Homo sapiens: one gene and its partners. The protein of the gene in region 4 interacts with the protein of the main gene of each other region in a pairwise test. Each region holds a gene or a part of one and is shown on either strand. Other genes may lie near its edges. The genes, in order: DMD, DTNA, USH1C and CTNNAL1.

Region 1 (7,030 bases), on a different chromosome or scaffold from region 4:
CCTATTTAGCCATAAAGCATTAGCAACTTGATTAGTTTGTAACGAATTTTAAACCTGCATATTGGGTGTGTCAAGACCTGGGGAAAATTGGAATGGAGAAATGAGTTAGTAGTCAGATAATTCAAAGCAAAGGACTCCCCCTTGAATGATCTATTAAATTGAGGTGAAACTATTTTATTAGAATTTTCTTTTTGATTGCCTTAATCTTTCGCTTCATTTTGCATCTGCAGACACAGGCTTGCTGGTTAGTGTAAGGTTATTTATGACACATTACATTCATAACATCTAATATGAAGGATAATAGGCTGAAACATTCAGCCAGGTGGAATTAGACTTCACATGCAATACAGTTTCGCTATTTCTCGTATTCTTCCAATTGCTCAGAATAATTCACCTGCTATTAAACTTTAGGGTATTAGATTTAACAGAAAACAGTGTATTTATTAATTTTCTTGAAGTATTAAAAGAAGTCACAATAATATGCAACATACTTCCCTTATATGCTTATAAAATTAAGTTATGGTAACTGCTTTTGACATTTTAAAAATATACACCAAATTAAATGGAACTGACACTATCACAGAAGAAGTTCCCAAGAAGTCTCATACATGGGCTGAACCCTATGCAGTTATTATTTACATAGGGCAAAATGGTTGAGTATCTGTTTGATTCATATAATTCAACCTAACTTAACTATAAAGACTTAGTTTCCAGATTTTGACATCCTGGTTTTGTGAGGAGTACTTTCTTCTATAATTACAGATGATGATCATTCCTCTTCATCTTACAAGTGTTAATAATAGGAACAAAAATGTACCTGTCAGAAAACCTCTATGGTTTATACCTACTACAAATAAAGAAGTGAGACCAAGCTAACAATTCTGAATCGCCTTTTTAAAGAGAGAACCATACACTTTCCATTCAGTTGTTTGAAAGAAGAGCAGTCACTCCTTTTTGTTTTGGCTGGTAACATTTCAGTAATAACATTATCTGATATTGTTCAATCTGCAATCAATTAGCAACCATCTTACTAGGCATCCAGTTCTTTTATGGGCACTGTAACCCATTAAGTAGTTAAACCAGGTGTGAGGATTAAGCTATTATTCTTCAAGTCAATGAGATAATGGCTTATGCAGGTTGACATAAGATGTACCATGAAATATTTATTATTTATCATGTATACATTAAGAAAGTAAAATCAGCATGGGATGATCTCAGGAAAGCAATACATATTTTTTGGATTAGACATTGAAGTAAAGTGAATGTATGATAAATTGACAAATTAACATTGCCAATGTTATGAAAAATGATGTAGCAAAAAAAATTAAGATGTATTTTCATTTTTGATAAGGGGTTTTCCCTGTTATCTGTTAATTTCTTGTGTCTTTAATTGGCAAAATTAAGCACTAGTGTTACAGAAGCCCAAAGTGAGGGAAACCACTCACTTTCAGAATGTACATTAGAAGTTTAAAACTGTACCCAGATTTTTTGTCTCTTTTTTTTTTATTAGTAGGCCTCTGTTAATAGAGTAGTAGTTGCAAACACATACGTGGGTTTGCCAGTAACAACTCACAATTTGTGCAAAGTTGAGTCTTCGAAACTGAGCAAATTTGCTCTCAATTTCCCGCCAGCGCTTGCTGAGCTGGATCTGAGTTGGCTCCACTGCCATTGCGGCCCCATCCTCAGACAAGCCCTCAGCTTGCCTACGCACTGCATTCAGCTCCTCTTTCTTCTTCTGCAATTCCCGATCAATTTCCTATTGAGCAAAACCAATACAGGGCCCAGGGCAGTTAGCTAACCACATCAACCGACTTGCAAGCAGCAAATACTTCTCTCAAAATTTCAAAGGCTGTTGTCCCTTTATTGTCATCCTTTGAAGTTTACAAATATGAAAGGCATGACTGTCATCCTCGCTCAATAACCCAAATATTATTTCAGTTATCCTTTGAATGCTTGGTTTTAGATATTCTAATTAAGTAAATATTGAAATTGGTCTAACATTTTCTTTCTTCTAAATTCCTCTGGTGTCTTGGGATTTGAAACAATTTGGAGTGATAACTCATTATTTATTAGGGACCGTCCACATAGAATATAATTTAGAGGGTAAGTGAATAAGTTATTTATTTCCTTTTTAAAGGTTTGAGGAACTCAACAGAGAATGAAGCAAAATAAAAAGTGTAAAATAATAACAGAAAAAAACATATTTAGACAATATGCAAATAAATCTATAGAGAGTGAACACTGATGTGTGAAGATGCTCTGATGAAATGAATGGGCTAACATGAGTAAGAAGTCGTCCATATACCGATAAGTCATTAGTTCATCTGGAACAAAGATACACAAAGTCAATTACAATTTTACCAGAAAACACATCACATTTCTTAAATCACTTTACATAGTCTAAAACATTTTATTCATTCAACATTACGTCAATTGAATAACACTTAATACAATACATTTACTGAAAACAACACACAATACAAGGAAATGCATCAAATCAAAGAGAACGTTAATAGAAACAAGAACATCAACATTTTAAATATGATCTTCACAGGTTAATTAAACTGTATAATAAAATCTGGTATTGACATTCTAAAACAACATTACCTTTATTTTCCTTTCATCTCTGGGCTCAGGTAGGCTGGCTAATTTTTTTTCAATGTCATCCAAGCATTTCAGGAGATCATCAGCCTGCCTCTTGTACTGATACCACTGATGAGAAATTTCTAGAGCCTTTTTTCTTCTTTGAGACCTCAAATCCTGTTCATGGTGCAGACATTATTAAAATATCAATATATATGTATAGTGCACTTCTGGCTGCAGTTATTTATCAAAATAATTTGCGTCCCTCATCTTTTTGTACAACTTAGGTTAAAATCATATTTAAATGCAAAATATACAAAGACATAATTAAATTGCCTATGCATGAGGCGGGACCCATGTATAGGAAGCTAAGAAACCTGAATAACACACTTAAAGTATTTTCTCTTAGCATGTTCAAACTTGCTTAAAAATTTTGTCACATTCAATTGACTCTTAATGAGCTAACTGTTGTGTAGTTTATGTGCAAGAGTTTAATATACGAATACAATTGACTTAACTAGATACAAACTCACAAACCTAGTGAGTTTGTATCTGACTTAAAATAGGTAAAATTCTAAAATGTATATCTTTAGCCTTGGGGCTCATCAACAAAACTTTATGTACTCAACCAATATACATTCATGTTTTTAGAAATGCCTACATAAGAGTTTCATAGGCCATTAATATTTTATGATTAGAAATATAAAGCCATTTTAGTTGTCTTATAAACTGTTCCAAGCTGTATGTGTAGAAGTGTCACCACTGTTCGTATATTGGTGAACATAACTAATAAAAAATTATGTGAGATAAATGCTTCTCCTTCCAAGGCTTGCATAGCCACATTTATCTTACTATACCAAATCATGCTCTAAATGCAAAACAATTAACTATTTGAAAAAAGAAAACAGCAAGTGCATGCTTTCAAATCAATGTGATAAGACTAATTTAATAAATCAACAATGGGAGGAAATCAGTCATCATGCTCTTTACAAGCACACTCAATATCTTCTGTGATTAATAGAATTACTCAAAATGCCATTTTATAATTCATGGGAACATAAGCTCTGCATGCAGCTTTCATTTCTACAGAAAGTAGCAATTAGGGTTTTATTCACAGGTTTAATTCGAGCGAAAAAATAATAAATATCAGGGAATTTCTAAAAATTTCATTCCATTGGAAAATTTTGACCTTCTCTAAAATATTTCATAAGGACCAGAATTGGAACTATTTGACAGGTTTAAAAAGTTATTGAATATGTTGGTATAGATTGGTTTGGCGAGTAGTGTTGACGATTTTGATTAATCACTTATAGCCTGTATTTGCAAGAATGAACTACATTTCATTATCTAGTTTGTTTAAAATTGGGAATTTAAACCTTGCTGTACTTTATGTTTTATGTTGAATTTTCAAACCTTCTGAGGAGTCAGATCGAACGCTGCTTTTTTCAAAGGTAGCAAGATACAGCCACGTGAATTAGAGTTGAGCCATGCCTTATTTGTGACATAACTCACATCTTTGCCAGGAGAAAGGGCTTGGTGGTCATCAATCTGAAACATCTTTCATTTCCTAAGCACAAAGTGATGTATAATATGTAAAATATTTAGAGATGTCATGTAGATTTCTTTAGAGGAATGCCAGATGACCATTAAACACTGCTATTCAGTAGGACACACACCATCATACGACCAGTGTAGATACTTCTGAAAGCTTGCTCACAGTTGGAAGGGTGTGAGTTACATAGCGTTCCGATTTTCTAGACACATTATGGTGTGCTTTTGCACTCCCTCGAGGAAGAGGCCTTTTCTGTTTACTATATTTATCAGCAGTTACCTTCAGAACACCTGCTGGCCAATTAGACTTTCCTTGTGGATTCCTTGCAGGCACAATATTGTGTAATTACATTCTCAGCAGTGTTTATTTGGTTGACTATAGGGGGAAAGGTTTTATTCTCTTATTTGCATGTAGAAAGCAGACTCCATCTACCTGCTAGGTGGATCCACCTTCATAACTACATAGCTCAAAAGAGTGATTTACAAGGAAAAGCTCAGCAATTAAAAGTATTAGAAAATCAGCCATGCATGCAAATAGTGATTATTGCAAAGCATATACAAAAAAAAAGTTTCACAAAACTTTCCACATGTCTAGTCTCAAGAACTTCCTAGATATTATTATAGAAAAATTAAGTTTATCCTGCTCTTCCTGCACAAACCAGATGAGTCACCTGGGGACTTGAAGCCATACACTACACTGCTTAATATGAAAGTAGCAGTTCTTATTCAAGGGCACTAAGATTATTTTTTAGGATTCCTACATAAATGAAATTTGACTTTGTAGATAGTTGCAAAGAGTGACTTTCTTAAAGGCATAATAAAGTTTTAAAAATAAATAAAAGAATCTAGGGCTTATTAAACAAGTATCAGGTTACCAAAAAATTGGACCTAATGCAAGCAAAATCAATTAAGTAAAGAAAGCAGGAATAATGGATACATGTAGATCGGTTATTCTGGCAGTTAGGCAGGTTTTTTTCAATATAAAGTAGCTGATAAAAATAAAGCACATTAGAAAATTAAATGTATAAGTACTATGAATGCATTCCCATCTTTCAATTACTACTTAGAAAAATATGTCTTTAAAAAGCCATAACTTTTAAGCAACACATCGTTCAAAATCAAATACCACTCAAAAATGTTAAATAAAGCATACACATTGAACAGAAAAAGTGAGTTTCTGATGACTAAGTCTGAAGCAGATTTTATTAATGCACATTATATTTTACCCTATATATTAAAAAAAAACCACAGGCAAGGTATATTATAATTTTAGCTCTAATACCTTGAGAGCATTATGTTTTGTCTGTAACAGCTGCTGTTTTATCTTTATTTCCTCTCGCTTTCTCTCATCTGTGATTCTTTGTTGTAAGTTGTCTCCTCTTTGCAACAATTCTTTTACAGTACCCTCATTGTCTTCATTCTGATCAAAAACAACAAGTACAGTCTTCATTTTGGTTTTTAAAAAGCTGTACATTGTTAACAGAGATAATAAGACATGTTATTTAAACACACACAAAAATCCAATTTAAAACTTTCATGGAATGCTATTATAAGATACTGTGCTCATAGCCTTTCTTTTACATTTGGTACTTGAGGTTTCAAAATAAGTTTCCTCCCATCTAGTTGTAAAGAACACATTTTTAGGGGCACCTGTAGAAAGATGGGGGAGTGTGGTACTTCATCATGTCAGACAAGTCATGAATTACTGTGAAAGTATTCTTTTGGCTTTTTTAGTGTAGTTCTAGAAATTAAAACATTAGAGAAATGAGCTAAAGTTATCATTTATAATGTTAACTGATCCATAAAGGAATACAGATGTGTATTTGTGACTGAGATAACAGCAAATCTGAAAATATTAACACACAACTACATGAAAATATTTTGATTTAAATGTACACTAATTCCTATCTAATAACTCCTGCTTCATTTCTGAAACCTAAATGCTCAATATTAATAGGAGAAATATCAGGATATTAATAAAAATCATGTGCTAAGTTACCATCAAATAATTTCTAAAATATGTCATATATGCATGTTAATTTAAATACGATCAAATAATACTAAAATATGGACTGGAAAATGGCTTTAAACATTTTCAATGGGTATTTTGTTCCTTTAGGCTGCAAGAACAATATCTTAATTTTCTTTACTTAGAAATAAAATGTTTTGAATAAATGCTGGTCTAATATAGTCGCATATATGACCATGTGATTTTTCACCTTTAGTTTTCTTTCTTTCAACTCAGAATGTGAAAACTTTGTATCAAGTAGTCTCACATTGTAATGGTACTCAAGGTACACTGATGACATAAGGAAAACAAATAATAAATTTCAAAAGTCACAAGTATTTGTATGTGTGTATTACAATTCAAGGAATTAGATGTTATATATTTAAATCTATAATGCATAAACTTCAACACGCAACTGAGGACTGATTCATTTTGTATGGGGGAAAGGGATTATTTTTGTCAGAGACTGGTCAATAATCTAAAGAAACATACGGCATAATATAGACACATTATATACTTATCATAATATAGACACATCATATACTTATAGTCTGTAAAAGACTTTACTTATTTTAAAAGGTGTTGTAAAAGTCTGTAGCATTTTCTAGGGCTGAGGACAAAAACAACAAAAAATTAAAAAACCCACTTCACTTCTTTCCCTATACCAGTTGAGGGCTCTAGGGCAGAGTTGGGGTCAGCCCAAGAGGTAATCAGTACTTTTTTTCATCTTGGTGCCCTCTAGTTTCTTCTTTGACCTGAAGTAGAGATTGCTGTAACTCAGCAACTTGGAAAGCCTCTTCCGTCTTTCCACAAGCTGAGTTGGCAAGGCCACCAAACCCCATACATGGGGAGTATTGATTGAGGCAGCTCCAGGAAGTGGGAACTAAG
Region 2 (7,030 bases), on a different chromosome or scaffold from region 4:
TTTCATTTGGTGCTGGTTGCTATGAGAACCACCGGCATGTCCCCTCCAGAAGCAGTCCTGACAGAGCTGGTAATTGTGACACTGTTGGCATCGGTAGCGAAATCCCATCATACTCTCACTGTGGCAGTAGGAACACTCAACCGGATGGAAGACTAAGGGGGAAGTAAGTGAAGAAAAACCAAGAAAACAAAAGTATGAACCAGAAGAAGGAAAAATACAGCCTTACAGGAATTGCACCTTTCTTCTCTGCACCACGATTTCAGATGATAGTTGATTTGGGCTCAGAGAAACATTTAGTTCATTCCTGGAATCTTACAACCCTTTTCAATCATGCCTGTGGGGAAATGAAATGAAATGGGATGGAGAAGAGGTGTCCTTTTAACAACAAAAATCTCTGTAATGCCATTTGCTCTTTCTATTCCCATCTCTCACATTACAAGAATTTAAATTAGCCAAACAGACTTGCCTTTACCCCAAACTGCTCTCTGTCTCCAGGAGACCAGCACAGCTCACTGGAAGACTCAGAAGCACAAGGGGTGAATGCTGATTGTCCAGTGGGAAGAGAGCGAATATCAGAGACACGGAGAATGAGAGGAAGAAAAAAGAAAGGAAGATGGGCAGAGAATGGAAAACTGGTGTGGATGAGATAATTAAGTTATTTTTTAAAAAATAGAGTGACTAATGGCTTACTTAACGAGTGGTGTTGCCTACATCTGACAAACAGATTTTTTTTTCTTTCCTGAGGCAGGTGTATAGGGCCCTAAAAAAGATGTGCAAATTATCTGAAAACAGTTCTAAATAATTCAAATGCCTCAAGAGACGGTTAACTTTCTTTGGTAGGAAATTTGAATTATAAAGCAGGCAAAGCAAAATACTAGATTTGAAGCAAAGTAAAATATTAGATTTAAGTGATCAAATCCAAGTAATTGTCTACATGCTATGAGCTAGATACTAAAACAACAATAACAATTCTTGCCTTTGGTAAAGCTATTCTCCGGCCTAACCAGTCAGGAAAAACAATGAAAATAATAATAAATGAAGATAAAAAGCAAAGTGTAAAAACAAAGACATAACTAGCTCTGGACGCATTGTCTTCTAAACAAGTGTCATAACCTTTCTTCCCGGCTCTTGAGAAAGACTAGAGTGGGACTTCAATCTAGGGACAACTGTTCTGGGATGGTGCCTAAGAAACTGATCTCCTGCAGCAGGAAATGCTGAGAGAGAACGAAAGAAATTATAGCTTTATGATTGGAAAATGACTAGTTCTAGAACTGTAAACAGTAACGTGAACTCATTTTGCATAATAACATGGACCTTGATTGCTCTTCGCTTCTGCATATGGATAAACATAAAAAAACTATGATTGTTAGTGATTGCAAAAAAATAAAATAAATTCATTCTTTAAATTTTCTCCATGAGAAAAACAGGATAAATTCATAACTTCTAACTAACAGATAAATAAGGGCAGATGCTAAAAATTCTGAATGATAATTTAAAATTAAGCTAACTTTAGCTGCAATGTATATTAAAGAAATACACAGAAGTTGAGTAATATATAGAGACTTAAGTTAAATCTCAGTAAGAGATAGAGACTAAATTATTTCCTCGTCAAGTCTGGAGAAATTTCAGAGTTACATTGAACAATAAGTAGGAACACCTAAAGATTAGATGGAGGCACTGAACTGCTCCATGTTTAATTTTCTGTAAATTTTGCCCCAAATGGTATTTCATATTTAAATCTGGATATGCCAACAGTAGTTCCTTTTATCCTAGAAATACTTGCTTTAAAAAAAGACATGATACGAAAGTTATTTTACTCTTATCTTTAACGTAAGTACAACTATTGAAAGCTCACAATCTGGAACATATGACTAAAGATTAACAGGGTGCTATCATCTATTTTTTTTTCTCATTTCTCCCACCTATTTCTGGCTGAGTGCCTGGGAAGAAATAATCAGTACCGTGTATGCAAATATGAGAAATTCGGATCTAAAACAAATACAAAATAATGTCACACTCCTTGTTGAAGTTCGCCTTCTATCGTGCCAAGTCTTTTAACCACACCTGACTTGTAATTGAGAAGAAGACCATGAGATTTATTTTTGGAACTGACAGTCCTAATTTTTCAGTGGTCCTTTAAGGCCTTCCCGAACAGGGAGATGGGTTAGTTCTACCCTAAACAAAACTAAGAGCCACTAAATAGGCTTCCCTAAAACAACAGCCTGGGCTTACTAACTGTAGAACTAATGGCCTAATTTCAATAATTTAAAAAATCACCTTTGCTCCTTAGTAACTACTCACCATTTTCCACATTTGCTAGTCGATGCAGAAGAGGCAACCAGACCAGACACTGCGGGGGAGGATCTGACATAAGCGTGTCCAAGAAACCATTTAACGTGACTTTTTTCTGCATAAAAAAACCCCCCATAAATTTAGGACAGAGAATCATCTCAATTTACCTGCTATGTAAATATCATATCATTTGAGACTGAAACAAAAGAGCACTCAATAAATGTCTAATATCTGAAGAAACAGAACTTGCCAAATGTGTTATTAAACTAGTTTAGAACTGAAAACATCGTTTGCTTTTTATACCTAAGCAGACATAGGACTGAATTCTCTCCACTGAGGCTGAGTCAATAGTATCACCAGGAGAAAAACAATTCCAAGAGCATCATTTGTATATATGAAAGACAGTATAAAAATAATGAAGCAAAATAAAGAATGGAAATTCTCCATGGAATTTTACTCAAGAACGCATCATAGCTCACTCTACAATTTTCCTGTCAGTCAGTCTTCTAAATTTATAGAACAACTTCCCTTCTGAGCTTCCTCAACTTCCTTAAGTACTAAATATTTAGTGGTTAATGTGAATGGTTCTGTTATACAAGAGCAGGAGGGAATCCTGTTAGGACAGAACCATCTACATTTTTAAAAATTTGCTCCTTTTATTACTTTATATATAATTCCTCTCAATTCAGTCTGCTTCTTTCTCACTATCCAGGTCCTTTTGGATGTACAAAAGGAATGCATTGTATCTATAAGTTTCTTTCAAAATGATAAAAGTAAGAAAGCTATATTAATACATGTACTGTAATGGTATAAATAAAAAAATACATATTTATATGCAAAAATCACTACTTGAAATTTTGAACTAGAATATCAAAGGGGATGGGATAATTTTATTTATTTATTTTTTAAAATATTTTATTTATTTGCTTGAAAGATGGGGTCTCATTATGTTGCCCAGGCTGGACTCTAACTCCTGGTCTCAAGCTGTCTTCCTACCTCCTCCTACCTACCTCAGACTCTTGAGTAGCTGTTAATAGCCAATTCATTAAGTACAAAAATAAACTGGTCTTATTATTTTTGTGTTACCTCTTTTCATATTTGAAATGATCTTATTCATTTTGACTATTTGTCATACTTGCTAAAAAGCACTCCTGGAAGTTTCCAACAATGCTATTATGATTTCAACATGTATAAGTTGCTTATCATTAAGGATATATATAAATCATATAACAGAACAGTCTATAGGATATTTCAAAAGGAATTTTGAACATGTCAACATCACATATAATTCTTGAACACATAGGTCCTTTTTTCTCTTTTTTTTTTCTTTTAGAGACAGGATCTCACTCTGCTGCCCAGGCTGGAGTGCAGTGGCACAATTATAGCTCACTGCAACCTTGAACACCTGGGCTAAAGGGATCCTCTCATCTCAGCCTCCCAAGTAGCTGGGACTATAAGTGTGTGCCACCACACCTGGCTAATTGTTTAATTTTTTTTTTTTTTCAGAGATGAGATCTTACTATGTTGTCCAGGCTGGTCTTGAACTGCTGGACTCAAGCTCTCCTCCTGCCTCAGCCTCTCAGTGCTAGGATTACTGTGTGAGCCATCACACCAGCATAGGTCCTTTTAAGATTTTTTTTTTAAAACCCAGTCCTATTATTCTAGCTGATTTTGAATGAGACATATATTCTGAGGCATTAGCACATTTACCAATTATTCTATAATACACTAACTAAAATTCAAGAATTCAGTTATAAATGAAATTATTCTTGTTTCCATGACTGGGTGAAGTAATACAACAGGTAGTTACATTTCCTTGAGTCAGATCATCTGCATATTTGTAAATATGAACTGAAAGTGCACAAAACAAAAGCAACAACAACAAGAACACAAGAATAACATTAACAGATGGAATTAGAAGACCAGAGTTAAAAACTCAGCCCCCTGCCCTCACTAGCTATGAACTTTATATTGTTAAAAAAGAATCATATTTTCCTTGTTAGGTCACAGGGTTGTTGCAAGCCATAAATCAGATAATTCACTTTGTGAGGCATAAAGCACTGTAAAAATAAAAGGAGCCATACATTTAGCATGCCATGAGAAAAGTTGGAAAGCAGTAAAATTGAATGAAAAAATAGATTTGTGTTTTGAAGTGATTGACTTTTTTTTTTTTTTTTTTTTTGAGATGGAGTCTTGCTTTGTCTCCCAGGCTGGAGTGCAGTGGCACAATCTTGGCTCACTGCAACCTCTGCCTCACGGGTTCAAGCAATTCTCCTGCTTCTAGCTGGGACTACAGGTGCCTGCCACCATGCCCGGCTAATTTTTGTATTTTTAGTAGAGACGGGGTTTCAACATATTGGACAGGCTGGTCTCAAACTCCTGACCTTGTGATCCGCCCGCCTTGGCCTCCCAAAGTGCTGGGCTTACAGGAGTGAGCCACCTCACCCGGCCTATTGACACTTTTAAAAGTTAATTTCAGTAAAAAGAAAAGACTTCCTGACTCTTAATCCATAAAGCTGTGTAGTGAGCATTTGTTGTATGCATTTTATGGGGCAGGGATATACCTTTTTTTTTTTTTTTGAGACAGGGCCTTGCTCTGTCGCCCAGGCTGGAATGCAGTGGCGCCATCCGGGCTTAAGCTATCCTCCTGCCTCAGCCTCCTGAGAAGCTAGGACTACAAGCATGTACCACCATGCCTGGCTATGTTTTAAAAATTTTTCGTAGAAATGGGGTTTCCCTATGTTGCTCACACTGGTTTTGAACTCCTGAGCTCCTGAGCCTCGGCCTCCCAAAGTCCTGGGATTATAGGAGTGAGCCACCACACCCAGTCAAGAGGCATTTTTAGAGGACAAAAAAGTTAGTTTGGATTCTCAAAAAATGGTAAACTAACCTTTAATGTATGGATTTCTATGCTACCACTGGGCTACGCTGGAGAATGGGCCTGGAGTCTCTCTACATGACCAGAGAGGTACACACATAGATAGCCCCCTAAACTATGCAGCTTCCCAGGGTAGCTTGAGCCATACCCAGTTAAAACACATCACTTGGAACCCCAAATGTGTCATGCTGTAGAAGATTCAGGCAGCTGTGTTTACCATATTTTGGGCCTCTCAGGTCATGATGTGGCAGATGTTGGGATTCCTTTCTGGTATCCTTTGCTAAACCAATGTTAAAGCTTGTTGCCGGGTCAAGCATATATTTCACATGAGGCTGAGTGAGACAATTAAGCCCTTTTGAAAGTGCAGTGATAGTAAAAATAATGACACTGAGGGTGTAGGTGATATGGTAAGGCTTTGTGTCCCCACCCAATCCCATCTTGAACTGTAATTCCCAGGTGTTGAGGGAGAGACCTGGTGGGAGGTGATTGGATCATGGGGTGGTTCCCCCATGCTGTTTTCATGATAGTGAGGGAGTTCTCAGGAGATCCGATGGTGTTATAAATGGCAGATTCCCCTGGGCTTTTCATTCTTTCTCTTTCCTGTCGCCATGTGAAGAAGGTAGGTCTTTGCTTCCCTTCACCTTCCACCAGGATTGTAAGTTTCCTGAGGCGGAACTGTGAGTCTGTTAAACCTCTTTTCTTTATAAATTACCCAGTCTCGGGTATGTCTTTATAGCAGTGTGAAAAGAGACTAACACAGAAGGGTTGTTGTAGGGATTAAATTAGACAATGAAAGGAAAAAATTTAGCACAGTGCCTGCCTCATGGTCAGTAAACACTGTCTATTATTGTGATCCAGATGTGCTGGGTTTAGTTACTGGCTCAGAGGTCATTTGCCAGAGGCTGAAAAATACAATACAGGTTGCTATCACACAGAATAATTTGTCTGAGTATCTGTGACCTGGAATGACATCTAGAAGGAGAGCAACCACTGTTTGAAAGAGATACTTCCTTAAACATATTTTTCTCCTACCTGTTGGGAGAAACAGGATCTGGCTGACTGTTCTGTGTAACCAAATGAAGGACCTTCAAAAACTGCCGTGGGTAGTTTGAGAACTTCCCGAAGGAATTGGTCATATCGTCCATAAACCATCACCCCACTGGAGTCAGAAATCATTGAGAAAATATCTGATGAAAGGAAAAGGAAAGATATTATTCATCACATGAACATTCTCCACTGTTTTTGTTCAATATATCTGCTACAAATGACAAAAAAGTAGCAAAATAAACATTTTTTATGAAAGAATAATATAAAAGCTAATTTTTATGCTGAAATATTCCTGGCATAATGTTTTCTCTGGTTTCTTTTTGTAGATGATTCTGGCACATAGCAATCACAAGTAATTTGGGTAAAGTTAACATTTTAATGAGAGAGACACTTATTAAATGTCTTTAATAAGACACTACATTTTTGTTTTGAGGTCAACTATTAACTCTCATGTAGCTCAACAAGAGAAATTTTTGTATATATGAGAGAGACGCTGACTTCATTTGAAACACAATGAGAGTTTTACTATAAAGTTGGGGTGTGCGTATATTCATTTATCTAGCTAGAAATTTACCAATTTATATTATCACTAAAACTTTCGGATTTTGGTGTAAGATATTTGAAAATCAAAGACACGGTGAGGATAAAGATGTAATGACAAACACTTGATTAACTTCCTACAGAAGAAGAAAACTTTCTATGAATTACAGTTTTCTGGGTGGAAGGCACTTGATTTACAGGGAAGGGTTTTCTGACTCGTGTAGTGAAGAGGAAGCCTGGTCTTGTGGATGATCAATGAGGTAAAGTCAGGGT
Region 3 (7,668 bases), on a different chromosome or scaffold from region 4:
GTGAATAAATGAATGATTAACAAATTCCTAGAGAGTGGTGGCTCTTTCTGATCTTATTCATCCCAACCGGTTGTCAGATGCCTGGCCTCAGGCAGAATACACAGCTATGCTCATAAATGCATGATTGCTGAAGAGGCAATAAATACTTTTAAGCCAATGAGTAACCAAGTTCCTACCCTGTGCTGGTGCTGCGAACAGAAGAGCAGTCTCCCTTTGAAAGCTGGTTCTCTGAGGGAGAAAACAGTCTCTGACCAAGCCCTGCTCCCCCACATCCTGGCCCAAGGTTGCTACTAGTTACTGGAAGGGTATGCAAGTGCTCCTGGCGGCCTTGGGGTAACTTCACAAATCAAAGGGAGTCGATGCCTGGAGCCTGTTGGCTCCCACTGGACACTCTGCAGGTATCAGCTGGAAACAGTGTGGTTACTGTGGGCCCAGAGCAGCCAGTACTTTAATTGCTAGTTAGTTTTGACTGTCTTGTGAGGTAAGTTCTACAAACTCCATCTCATAGCTGAAGAAACTAAAACTCAGGGAGAGTGGGTGGCTTGGTCAAGGTCTTCCTGACAGTGACAGGGCTAAGATTTGGTCCCAGTTCTGCTAACTCCAGATAATAATCAACATGGACATTTCTTGAGAGCTCCCTAAGTGCCAGGGTCTATTTAAGCTCCCCACACACATGTAGGTCTCATTCAGCATTCATGGTAACCTTATTCGTTAAATATTGTTATCTCTTTTCACAAGTAAGAGCACTGAGGCACAGAGAGATTAAGTAACTTGCTCAAGGTCACAGAGCACTTTCCATTATAACACACTACCTTAAATATTACTTCCAACAACTAAGGATTTAGATCACAAACCATTTCTTCCAAAACACTAAGGAAGGGACCCCTACAAAGCAAACAACAGCAAGCTGTAAATTTCTCCCAGCATGTCTGTGTGCCTCCTTTCTATCCTCTGTGCTTCATCCTCTCTCCCCAGTTCCTGGATGATCCCCAACCTGGGAGGGGAAGGCTGTGGCTGTCTCCAAGGCAGCAGGGCACAAAGTCCAGCCTGGGCCTTGCCTAGCGCATGGCGCCTGCCCTGCCTGCACACAGGGATATTAATAAGTAATGACTGTTGCGATGAGGAAGAGTAGGGCAGAGGAAACGTGGAGGTCTGAGGCCCTTTGGAGCCTGTGGGACCTGGGGAAGAGGAACAGGGCAAACCCAGGATCTGCATCAGACACCAGGGACCCTGGAGATGATTCTCACAAAAAAGAGAGAGCAGGTACCCCACAGAGTGAAGGCAGAAGACCTGATGTTATTTCAGGCCAGGGGCAGGAAACTGAAATTCAACCCTGAGTCTTGGGTTGGGGGATGGAAGGCTGAGCTCCTTCAAACTGGGTTGCCTGAAATCTACACTCACAAAATGTCCTTAGTGGCTGAAATTTCTTCCGACATGTCTCTTTGCAACAGGATGTAACAGTGAATGCTCTCTCAAGCTCCCCTTGGTATTCGCCAGCCCCTAAATTCCTGCTGAACTTCCAGCTATCACCCACCCCTGGGAGCAGGACCAGAAATGCCCAAGACCTTGTTTTCAGGAGCCTTCTGCCAGTTTGAGCTGTCCCTTTGTGCCCCTACAAAAGCTTGGCCTCAACACGCAGCACTCAGACATGGGTAATTACCAGGGTAGGGTCTGCCTCCCACCTACACCACCAGCAAAGGGCACAGACTGGGTATGGCTGAGAGGATGCTCAAAACATGCTTATTAAATGAATAACTGACCCCGGGCCCTTGGCCCCAAGCCCCTGTGGCCCCTACACTGGCTAGCTCCTTGGGCTCCTATGGGCCTCTTTATGGGAAGGAAGGAGTTAAGCACCCTGACCTGCCCTACCTGAGCTCAGCTCTCAAACCAGGAAGAGGTTTGGCTTGGTCTAAAGACACTGCCCCTGGGGTCTTTGGGAGAGCCTTGGGTCACACAGTTATCAATAGTTAAGTTATCAATAGTTACCTGCCCCTCAGGCAGGGCCTGTGGGGAGCTCCAGATACCACCCACCCCCCCCAAGCGGCTTCATCCCCAGACTCAGAGGCATCCTAAGACTTGGTGGGGAAGTAGGCTGGATCTCTTTGATGGCCCTCTCTGGTCTCAGGGCCTCAGCAGATTCTGCACAGCTTTGTGAATCATTCTCGAAATGCCCTGTGTGAAACCTGGCCACTTCCAGAGATGGTCCTTGAGAATCCCAGACCACCAGTGAGGCCCCTCACTGGGACACACCAGGGTGGACCCGGCTCTGCCTGAAGGATCTGGCCGGCCAGAGCCCAGCTCCGACGCCCTCAGTACCTCCTCCCTTCCTCCCCACCGCACCCGGGTCAGCACCAGCTCCTCAGCTACTTCTCAGACCCTAAGAAACGCCCTTAGGCAGGCAGGGCTGAAATGCTTCTAACTCATGTTCTGAGGTCAAAAGGCAGAGAGAGAGACGTCTAGTTTCCCTTCTCCCAACCCTCACCTCTCAGATACTGCCCCAGACTGTCTCCACATGCCTCAACAGCCCTGAGCTGGGGGCACTAGGAAGGAGAGGGGCTTGCCCACAAAGGGGGCACCTCAGAAAAGCGGCCAAGACTGGAAGGAATTCAAACCCCAGAGACGTCCCTGCCCCTGGAAGGCAGAGGGAGAAAGGCTGGCAGAAGATCGACTCGTTTAGCAGTCCTTGAGCCGGGAGTCCCCGCATTCCCTCCCTCACTTTACTGGGGATCCCTGCTGCCAGCCAGACGACCCTCGGGTGTCCCAGCCCAACCAGAGCCATCAGGTGGGGCCGGAAAAGGGAGGGGCAGTGCCGGGGTGTCCACCCCCTACCCACCGCGCCCAGGACTCCGGAGTCCCAGAAGCCTGGGGCGCCCTGCAGCTCTGACCTTATGCCGGAATTCTCGGGCCACTTTTCGGTCCATGGCTGGGCCAGGTCCAGCTGCGTCGTTGCACGACCCGTTCCTTCGGGTGCCCGGCTGCCAGGAGCTGGAAAGAGCCGCGACCGCGACCGGGCCAGCCGCCCTCGGAGCTGGGGGCGGGGCCTGAGCGCGGAGGGGCGGGGCCAGGCCTCTGTGGGGCGGGGCCGCTGCGAGGCTGGAGTCGAAGGTGCTGAGTCGTCGCCTCCCACTGAAGCCTGGGAGCAAATGGGCCCCAGTGTGCCTATGGGCCTGAGGTGGCAGTAGCTGGGCTTCAAGCTGGTATTTCTCTGGAAGTGGTACCTGAACACATGCGTTTGAGGAAGAAGATCGTGGAGACGTAGGGAGGAGGTTTGGGACTTTTTTGTGGGGACCGGAATAGAGAGATACGGAAACTATTTACACGGGCGGGGGGCGGGGCAATCTAGTCCGTTTTCTCTGGATATTCTTTTTTTTTCCCCCCCGAGACGGAGTCTCGCTCTGTCGCCCAGGCTACAGTGCAGTGGCATGATCTTGGCTCACTGCAAGCTCCGCCTCCCGGGTTCACGCCATTCTCCTGCCTCAGCCTCCCGAGTAGCTGGGACTACAGGCGCCCGCCACCACGCCCGGCTAATTTTTTTTTTTTGTATTTTTAGTAGAGACGGGGTTTCACCGTGTTCGCCAGGAAGGTCTCGATCTCCTGACCTCGTGATCTGCCCACCTCGGCCTCCCAAAGTGCTGGGATTACAGGCGCGGGCCACCGCGCCCGGCCTTCTCTGGATACTCTTGTCGAGGTTCATGGCCCTCCTGGACTGTCAGCCCTTGCTACGCCCTCACCTCCAGCGTACCTTCAGTCCTGGCTTCCTCCTGCACTTTTCCACCAGGGAGAAATCAATCCTTGTTCTGTGAATTCCTTGGGGACAGGGCTGGGTTTTACTGTGGGCCGCAGGGGTCTGAATCAGTGTGTGTGAGAGTGCCCCCCTCAACTGATTTCCCCTCCCACCTTCCCTAACACCTCCACCCCCAACAAAACAAGACAAAACAAAACCCAAACCCAACACACTCACATATCCATCGAAGCCTGGCAGAGCCTGGCAGTGACATTTTGATCTATGGCTGACCTTCACCCAGGGCCCAGACCCTCTGGTTCATTTAATTCAATTTGGTCAGCATTTGCTTAACTCCTAGGTCTAGTGCTTGGTGCAAAGACAATGATGAACCAGGCCTGGAAAGGAATGAAAGGAAAGATTCATCAAAGACAATGATGAACCAGGCCTGGAAAGAGATGAAAGGAAAGAGGGGCTAGGAGAGGGGTGATAAAAATGTGTAAATCAGAGGCTAAGTATGGGGCTTGTGCCTGAACTTAACCCAGGGAGGCACCTGAGCCCTTTGTGCCCTGTCAAGGGCAGGGGCAAGGAGATGGACAGCAGCTTACATCAGGTAACCACTTACAATTGTAACTCTGGGGCACCTAAACACCCCTCTGCGTCCCTCTCCCCAATAGCTGAAGTTTTACAAGCACACTATTTTTGTTGCCTAGTTTAAGATGTAAATCCCTCTTGGAGAAGAACCTTAAAATATGATCTGTTTTCTCACCTTAGCATTAACTATTAAGTCAGCGATAAAATGGAAAGACTTGTGGGATTTTTGAATGGTCCAGAAAAGGCCACACAAAATGCATTCCCCTCCGACTTACTTCATTGATTCTCTACATTGGAAAAGAATGTCATATGGCTGTTTATTTTGTATTTAGAATCCTGGCAGAGGTGAATGAATGTCCTTATCCAGGGGAATGCTGTTCACCTGCCACACCAATCCTTATTTTACATTGGCCATTACCCCCACAGACTCCCTCCACCTTAAAATGCCCCCTGCTTTGTTTTGAGAATAGCATTGAGACCTGGTTCTCCTCTCTCATGAATTTTTGTTTCAAGCTTCCTTGGAGACAATCAGTCTTTGCCTGTTCCTTAACCAGCATTCCTTAAGGCTCCATCCTTAGCTCTTTCCTCTTCATCTTCCTATCTGTGCCCCCAGCTTCCTCCTGTGTGAAGATAGCTGTGTTTGCTTTATTTACCACTATATGCCTAGAACAGTGCATGGCATGGAATCAATGCCAAACAAATTTGTTGAGTGAATGAATGAATGAATGAATGAATGAATGCATCTCAAATCTATACCCTTGCCTAGAAGTCTACTGGGGCCAATACCACCACGACCACCACCACCACCATCATCATCATCCTCTGTAAGACCTAGCATCTAGTTGGTGTTCCCTAAGTGATGACGAAGTGAATGATGTACAGATTCCCCAGGTGCTCAGTCCCATGTTTTTGCCATTTTAAAATTCCTCCTGGGCAGACAGTGGACCTCGTTCACACATATAAAGTTGTTTTGTCAAAGTTTGGCCTTGATGGTGGCAATAACATAGGAGTATGAAACACTTTTATTATTCAATCGTCATTTCCTGAGCTCGGGCAGGAGCTGGTGCTGGGCATTCAGAGGACTAAGGCATGATCCATTCCCTAGAGGTGCTCAAAACTGGTCATAGGATACGGATGTGGAGACCCAGGTGGAAGCTGAGGTGGGGCATGGTGAGAACATAGGCTAGGACTCTGCAGGCTCTGTTATTGACCACTGATCCCTGAGTGGCATGTCCCAGGGCCTCAGCATGGCCCTCTGTAAAAGGAGAGGATAGGGCCAGACTCATACCTGCATCTTGCGTCTCTGGTATTGGGCTTCCAGGACCCAGGTAAGGGGAGCTGGAGGTTGCATAGGCTGCCTCTATGCTTCCCTAGACAATTTAGGGCTGAGTAATCTGAATCCAGCCTCCCCTGGGGAGGTGTGGCCACAGGCCAAGAAAAGCAGAGGCTAGGCTATGGACAGGCGCCTAAATTATGGTAATAAGCTGGGTACTCCTGTCACTCTAGTTCGGGGAGGAGCTGAGAGCCTGGGAGGAGGGGCTGAGGGAGCCCTGGGGCATGAGAACAAGAGGGACCTCGGCTGCGGAGTGGAGGTGTGACCCTGCCTTAGCCCGGGGAGGCACCTCGGGAGGCTGGCCCTGCGCTCAAGTCCTCCGGTCCCCTCGTGTCCCTATGGGAGTCCTGGCGTCTGCGCTCTGCTGGCTGCTTTGTGTCTGGCTGCCCTGGGGTGAGCAGGCAGCCGAGTCCCTGCGGGTGCAGCGCCTCGGTGAGAGGGTTGTGGACTCAGGGAGGTCGGGGGCTCGAGGAATGAGAAACGTTAAAGGAATGAGGAATGGGCCCGCGCAGGTTGGAGAGAGGGAGGAAAGAGAGGTTTGAGGGAGAGCAGAGGGACACCCAGGAGGAGCAGTCAGGGGAGGAGGGACCCCGAAGCCAACAGAGGCAGGCCTATGACCGCGGGGGAAAGAGTCCAAAGTTAGGCTGGGTGGAAGAGACCCGAGGTGGGGAACTAGAGAGAGCTGGGGGCCAAAGACTGAGAGTAAACAGGGAGATCCTGGCTGGAGAAGGGTCATCAGGAAGGGAGAGAAAGGATTTGAGAAGGCTGCAGGGAGGGAGAATGGGGGAATGCTCAGTGGCGTGGGAGAGGCTTTCTAGCAGTGGGGGCCAGGTGGTGGGAGGCCCCAGTAAAGACAAGCACAATTTGAGTGGAGAATAATCCCCCTCCCCAGCCGCAGCACCCGTTCTGTGGGGCAGTGCAGAGCCACAGCCAGAGCCAGCCGGGCAACCCAGGTGAGTAGGTGTGAGCTGTGGCGGCCCCACCCACAGCTCCCATCCGTATTTCTGGCATCAGCGACCCCAGGGCTTTAGCACTTAGGGTGGGATAGGCCAGGGGACTGCGGGGAGGCATAACCCATCCTAGCCCCCCATCCATGCCAGACTCGTGTTTCCTCCAGCAGCAGCCACCAGGAGGCGACCCTTGCCATGGGGGACAAGGCTACAGTCGTGGGAGGCCAGGTAAGGGAGGTCTTGGGAGGGGGCTTCATTGAGCAGGAGCTCATGTCTATCTGGATCTGAGGCTGGCAGGGAGCTCTGTAGGTTACAGGAGGGGTCTCTGGAGTTGTTCAGAAAGGAACAAGCAGATTCCTGGTATGTGTCTGAGGTGTGCAAGTTCATAAAACCCTTCTATTCTTTTTAATCTCTTGGGGGTCTATAGTCCACTCTTTTTTTTTTTTTTTTTTTTTTTTTTTTTTTTTTTTTTAGGAGAGGTGGGCACCAGGGCTCTTTCAGGAGAGAGCTGAGCTCTCCCTTCTGGCAGGTAAAAGTAGAAAGATGGACGTTTAGAAGAATGGAGTTCTCTTTTCCCTGACTGGCCTGCGAAGGCCCTCAACCCTGTCAGAGGCTCCTCTCCATACCCTGAGCGGAGCCTCAAGAATGCAGGCAAGACAAAAACTAGGCCACCTGGTGGAAGTTGCAAGGAAGGTTTGGTTGAGAAGCAGAGCCCTGAACTCATCCTTTGAGCCTTTTTTTTTCTTTTTTTGAGTCGGGGTCTTGCTCTGTGACACAGGCTGGAGTGCAGTCGCATAATCATAGTTCACTGCAGCCTCAACTTCCTGGGCTCAAGTGATCCTGGTGCCTCCGTTACCTGAGTAGCTAGGACTATAGGTGTGTGCCACCATGCCTGGTTGAATTTCAATTTTTTTGGTAGAGACAGAGTCTCACTATGTTGCCCAGGCTGGTCTTGAACTCCTGGCCTCAAGTGATCCTTCTGTGTCAGCCTCCCAAAGTGCTGGGATTAGGCATGAGCCACTGAGCCCGGCCTCTATCCTTTGAGTCTTGACCATTCCACTGCCCATCTT
Region 4 (5,453 bases):
GAATCCCAGCTAATATTCAGGGCAGACTGGCCAGCTATGCTAGAACTAGAACCAAAAACCCATCTCATACTCTCCAGGAGTTGTTCCAGGATTCTGTGGAGTTCCATTACCTTACTTTTGGGAGTAGGTGAGGGACATACACAGCACAGCAGACCCACCCTTGCTGTACAAAATGCTTATTAGGGAACAAACTTGCTGCTGGCATGGACAATCTGGGACAGGGTCATCAAGGGGATTTTTGTCACACTTGGTAAACAGAGGGATTGAAGAGTCCACAGGTTTAAGGAAAACCCTGCATTCACCCAGACTACTGTATGTTTGCTGCTGACATTAGTGATCTAGATGATAAAGAAAACAGTTAAGGTAAAATATGCCAAAGCTAAGCACATATTCAAAATAGCTTCTTGTGGATTAAATTGTCCTTGAGACAGTTGGGATATTTGGTTTGACTTTTAAAGAACATTAGTGCAATGTTCTATTTTAAAAATCACACTACAATTAGAATCTAGCAATTACCAAGACATTTATTAGTTGTCAAAAAGCTTTACAATCAGTTTCATGATCAGAAAATAGAGCAAAATTTCAATATTGTTTTCTTTATAAAATTGATGAATTTCTGAAAAGATAAAGGATCATTTGATTTTTAAAAATGTCAGCTTCATCACATGATGTTCCAGAGATCTGACCCCAAAAGCTTCTCAAGTTTTACTATCCATAGTGTCCTTATTTGTAACTGAGACCCATCCGTTATTTTCCATCTGAAGCTGGAAAGAGTTAAGACAATTAGTATCTGGTTTCACTCTGAAAAAAAAATTACAAAATTAAGTAGTAACTATTTTCTTTTAAACCATTTTTTAAAGTATGAGTCTAAAATAGAAAAACTACCTCACCTTCTTCAGCAGTTTATAACAAAGTGAAAGAAGTTGGACTAAGAGAGCCATCATGGATCTTGTCTTCGTAATACACTTGTCAACCTACAATGACAAAAAGCATGCAAATGATATTCTAAAAGTAGTACTTAAAAGACCTTACCATTTATTTAGTTTTAACATGATAAAATTTCTCCATATGGAAATCTAAGGGATCTTGAAAGAGATATGGATTTAGGCACATGAGCTGACTCAAAGCCCCAGGACACAGGTGCAGGGGTAGCTGCCTAGATTTCATGTCTATCTCATGGAACCCCAGCAGAAAGAGTGGGTGGAAAATTAATCATTCTACTGCAGGCTGTTTAGGGGCTTCTCAAAACACTCCAAATAGTGGAATTAAATCCCATCCTTTGCAATTCCTTGCACTCTATTTTGTGGGCACAAACCCATATTCTCTCAGACAAATTATGGGAGACCAGACTCGGAGGCACCTGTGTCCTAGTTGCAGAGGTAATGACTTCAGAATTGAAGGGCAGCTGTTCAGTGCTATGGAATTAATGATGTCCAAAAAACTACTTTATTTGGTGAATCTGCTACTCTCTGGGGTCAGTTATGAGAGTAGATAATAAATGATTCTTGTAGACAAGGCATGAAAAAAGGAAATAAATTGCCCTTCTGTGGGTACTAACAGTTTATTTGAAGAAAAAGGGGCTTTAACCAGATAAAGATAGATGTGTGAAAGTTTTTCATATGTCTCTTTTACCTTTAGAAATACTTTATTCTGCAAAGAAGTCTTAGTTACTGTCTGGAGCTGGTGGCATAGAGGAATTAGCTTGTTTATTTCCAGGAGAAGCATAAGCTTGTCATCGTCTTTCAGCTGAAATGTAATTTAACAAGTTATAACAGCCCGCAACAAAACTCCATCTTTAATACCTTAAACACATTTATACATTGATATTATACCCCCAAAGTAGGTTATACATAATACCACCACCAGCTCCAGGTAGGTAGACATGTGTTACCTGTTTTGAAAAAGCTTGAACACTGGAAGTAAGCTTTAAACCCTCTGCAGCAAAAACCTGGTAGAAAGAGAAAACACCACTATTTTAGACTGATGTCTATGGATAGTTGGTAAGAAATATACTTACTAATAATTTTTACGTAGAATTTTAAAAATAAAGCCTAGATATAAAAAGTCTGTCAGGAACTCCTAAACTTTTTCCAGTACCAGGAATGCACAAGGGTTTAACTGTTTTCAGAAGGAGTTTCCACAGACCAGATGCAGAATCCATCCCTGGAGAGGCTTCTCTACACCAGACCTCCAATTATTCTGGAGGGTCACACAGACCTGTGATATTCAGCCACACAAATTATGTCTAGATTACGCAAGGGACCTAGAGCTCATCTCAAATATGCTCAATTATAAAAGGATGATGAATTTTCAAGCATGAGGTCAAAAGGGTTAGGACCTTCCCAATTCCATCTAGGCAAGACAAAATTTGTCACCCATACATATTCCATAACCAGACATTTGAGAGAACCAATCCAGGTGGTTGGTTTTTGTTGCCACTTTTTTTCAGATTAATTTTCACTATTCACCATGTACCATGAATTCTATAATTTAATGAGATGAACAGGATGATGGAGAAGTAGAGTGAAAAAGAAGGTTGTACAGGTAAGACAGAAGTATTTAGCATATTATGTTAAAATGGTTTGCAGACTATTTTAGAGTGAGATGCCAGGGGAGTAAAGGGAGGAAGGCTTAGTTTTAGGTGGCGTCAGTAATAATGGAGAGAACAGGGAAAATCTGAGAGTGGTTTGTGAATGAAAATAATAGGTCTTCATAATAAATTAAAGAATACTAAGAAGGAGGAGGCAATAATTCCAGGGTTAATTTTTACCCTCTATTCAAAAGGCTTAACACCTTGCTATCACTGGATAAAATGATCTCAAGGTCAAATCGTACTTTGCAACCTTCCCTTTAAAAGGGAAACCAGTAAGCTTTACATCTAGACTCCAACCAAATGAAATGATTCACTTCCCCAAGTGTTCCTTATCACTTCATGTTACCACTTTCTATTCTGCAAATTTTCTCTTTCCTTCTAGCCTGCAAACCCCTTGGGGACAAAATCCATGTCTGTCTCATACAGTATGATGGTTTTAAAACTACCTGAAAGCTGGTAACTCCCAGGTCTCTCTCTCCACTCCTGAACTATCCTGACATCAGTCTTGTACAGTCATCCCTCAGTATCCATGGGAGATTGGTTCCCAGACCTCCCCAAGGATACCAAAATCTGTAGATGCTTAAGTCCCTTAAATAAAACAGTGTAGTATTTGCATATAACCTACACACATCATCCCATAAACTTTAAATCATCTCATCTCTAAATTATAATATCTAAGTTAATGTAAATGCTAAGTAAATCGCAGTTATACTGTATTGTTTTCCCTCCCTTGGAACTCTAACCTTTTAAAATGTATTTTGTTTTTTTTTACTGTTGTTATATTTTATTGGTTTTCTTCCTTTTTTTTTTTTTTTTGAGACAGGGTCTCACTCTGTTGTCCAGAGTGAAGTGAAGTGGTGTGATCACAGCTCACTACAGCCTTGACCTCCCAGGCTCAAGCGATCCTCCTGCCTCAGCTGCCTGAGTAGCTAGGATTACAGGTGTGTGCCACCATGCCCCGCTAGTTTTTTTTTTTTTTGTTTTGTTTTTTTGTAGAGACAAGGTCTCACTATGTTGCCCCAGCTGGTCTCAAACTCCTGGACTCAAGTGATCCTCCCAGCTTGGTCTCCCAAAGTGCTAGGGTTACAGGAGTGAGCCATTGTGCCCAGACTGTTTTTACTGTTTTGAATATTTTCAATCCATAGTTGGTTGAATCTGCAGATGCAAAACCTGCAGATAGGGAGGGCCAAGTGTATATCCTATCTGACCTTTGTACTTAACATGTGCAAAACAAAATGCTCGATTTCCACCCTCTAAATCTAGTGTTCTCCCTCAGTGTTCCCTGTCTCAGAAAATGGCACTACCACTCACTCTGTTGGCCAAGCCAAAAACCTTACTTAAAACATAATAGGATCAGCTGGGCATAGTGGCTCAGGCCTGTAATCCCAGCACTTTGGGAGGCTGAGGCGGGCGAATCACAAGGTCAAGAGATCGAGACCATCCTGGCCAACATGGTGAAACCCTGTCTCTACTAAAAATACAAAAATTAGCTGGGCGTGGTAGCGCACACCTGTAGTCCCAGCTACTCGGGAGGCTGAGGCAGAAGAATCACTTGAACCCGGGAGGCGGAGGCTGTAGTGAGCCGAGATCGTGCCACTGCACTCCAGCCTGACAACAGAGCGAGACTAAGTCTCAAAAAAAAAAAAAAAAAAGTCCTTCCCATGGCCTACAGAGACATCATATTTTACCCCTTTCCTTCTGGCTCACTTCACTCCCATCAATAATTGCCTCCTTACTCTTCTGATACACCCAGCCCTACCCCTGCACCTCGGGGCTTTGCACTTGTTTTGGCTATCTAAAATCCTCTACCCACATTTATCCATCCAACTCTCACTTCATTACTGTCTCTATTCAAACACTGGCTCCTTAGAGAGGTCTTTTCTGACCACCCCTCTATCACCTCTGTATTCTAGTCGTACGTGATTTTATCTCCAAGTACTTACATATGTGCACTGAATGCTTAAATTCTTATTGTCTATATTCTGCCATTAGAACATAAGCTCTATGGGGGCAGGAGCTTTGCTTTGTTCACTTTTCTCCACAGAGCTCTGTTCTCCCAGATCTGACATATAGCACAAGTTCAATAAATATTTGTTGAATGAAGTATGCAATTTTATGTTCATCACAGTTTGGAGACAATTCATTGAACATTGATTTAATGACTAAGCTCACATAGGAAGAAGGTAAGTAGTGGATCTTTTGTAGTAAAACACCCCTACAGGGCGGTATGACAGAATGGACTTGGGCCAAACTGAAAAAAAAAATAAATTCAGAATTTCAACTATCTTAAGGGAAATAGCTCATTTATAGTCTGCTTTACAGAAAAATCCAGAAGACACATTTTCTATAATACTTCTGATTATGTTGACAATCATCCTCTTAAGCTGAAATCCCTTTCCCACAGAATGCCAAATAAAACTATATGAGTGATAAAGTGATAGAAATTTCTTTCTTTTTTTTTTTTTTTTGAGATGGAGTCTTGCTCTGTCACCCAGACTGGAGTGCAGTGGCGTGATCTCAGCTCACTGCAAGCTCCGCCTCCCGGGTTCACGCCACTCTCCTGCCTCAGCCTCCCAAGTAGCTGGGACTACAGGTGCCCGCCACCACACCCAGCGAATTTTGTGTATTTTTAGTGGAGACAGGGTTCCACCGTGTTAGCCAAGATGGTCTCGATCTCCTGACCTCGTGATCCACCCACCTTGGCCTCCCAAAGTGCTGGGATTACAGGCGTGAGCCACCGCGCCTGGCCTAAAGTGATAGAAATTTCAAATCTCAGATGTACATGGGAATGCCAAAGGAGACTATATGAGTGATAAAGTGACAGAAATTTCAAATTTACACACAAGAATGCTCTTGGTTC

The links.
Region 1: the proteins of CTNNAL1 (region 4) and DMD interact in binary tests that used the Homo sapiens proteins (3 or more experiments, as listed by UniProt).
Region 2: the proteins of CTNNAL1 (region 4) and DTNA interact in binary tests that used the Homo sapiens proteins (3 or more experiments, as listed by UniProt).
Region 3: the proteins of CTNNAL1 (region 4) and USH1C interact in binary tests that used the Homo sapiens proteins (3 or more experiments, as listed by UniProt).

What each region holds. Positions count from the first base shown.
Region 1 is NC_000023.11:32,340,527-32,347,556, forward strand, and holds part of DMD (dystrophin), read right to left. Parts: intron 5,555-7,030; coding exon 5,417-5,554; intron 2,761-5,416; coding exon 2,608-2,760; intron 2,325-2,607; coding exon of another isoform or gene 2,316-2,324; exon of another isoform or gene 1,841-2,315; intron 1,757-1,840; coding exon 1,574-1,756; intron 1-1,573. UniProt on the Homo sapiens protein: Anchors the extracellular matrix to the cytoskeleton via F-actin. Ligand for dystroglycan.
Region 2 is NC_000018.10:34,811,286-34,818,315, reverse strand, and holds part of DTNA (dystrobrevin alpha), read right to left. Parts: intron 6,358-7,030; coding exon 6,203-6,357; intron 2,408-6,202; coding exon 2,302-2,407; intron 355-2,301; exon of another isoform or gene 153-354; coding exon 1-152. UniProt on the Homo sapiens protein: May be involved in the formation and stability of synapses as well as being involved in the clustering of nicotinic acetylcholine receptors.
Region 3 is NC_000011.10:17,541,387-17,549,054, forward strand, and holds the start of USH1C (harmonin), read right to left. Parts: upstream 3,031-7,668; 5' UTR 2,922-3,030; coding exon 2,886-2,921; intron 1-2,885. Other genes in the region: OTOG (otogelin isoform a precursor), read left to right, coding at 5,987-6,160, 6,749-6,826. UniProt on the Homo sapiens protein: Anchoring/scaffolding protein that is a part of the functional network formed by USH1C, USH1G, CDH23 and MYO7A that mediates mechanotransduction in cochlear hair cells. Required for normal development and maintenance of cochlear hair cell bundles.
Region 4 is NC_000009.12:108,942,071-108,947,523, forward strand, and holds the end of CTNNAL1 (alpha-catulin), read right to left. Parts: intron 1,949-5,453; coding exon 1,892-1,948; intron 1,747-1,891; coding exon 1,633-1,746; intron 975-1,632; coding exon 891-974; intron 802-890; coding exon of another isoform or gene 784-801; exon of another isoform or gene 765-783; coding exon 699-764; 3' UTR 507-698; downstream 1-506. UniProt on the Homo sapiens protein: May modulate the Rho pathway signaling by providing a scaffold for the Lbc Rho guanine nucleotide exchange factor (ARHGEF1).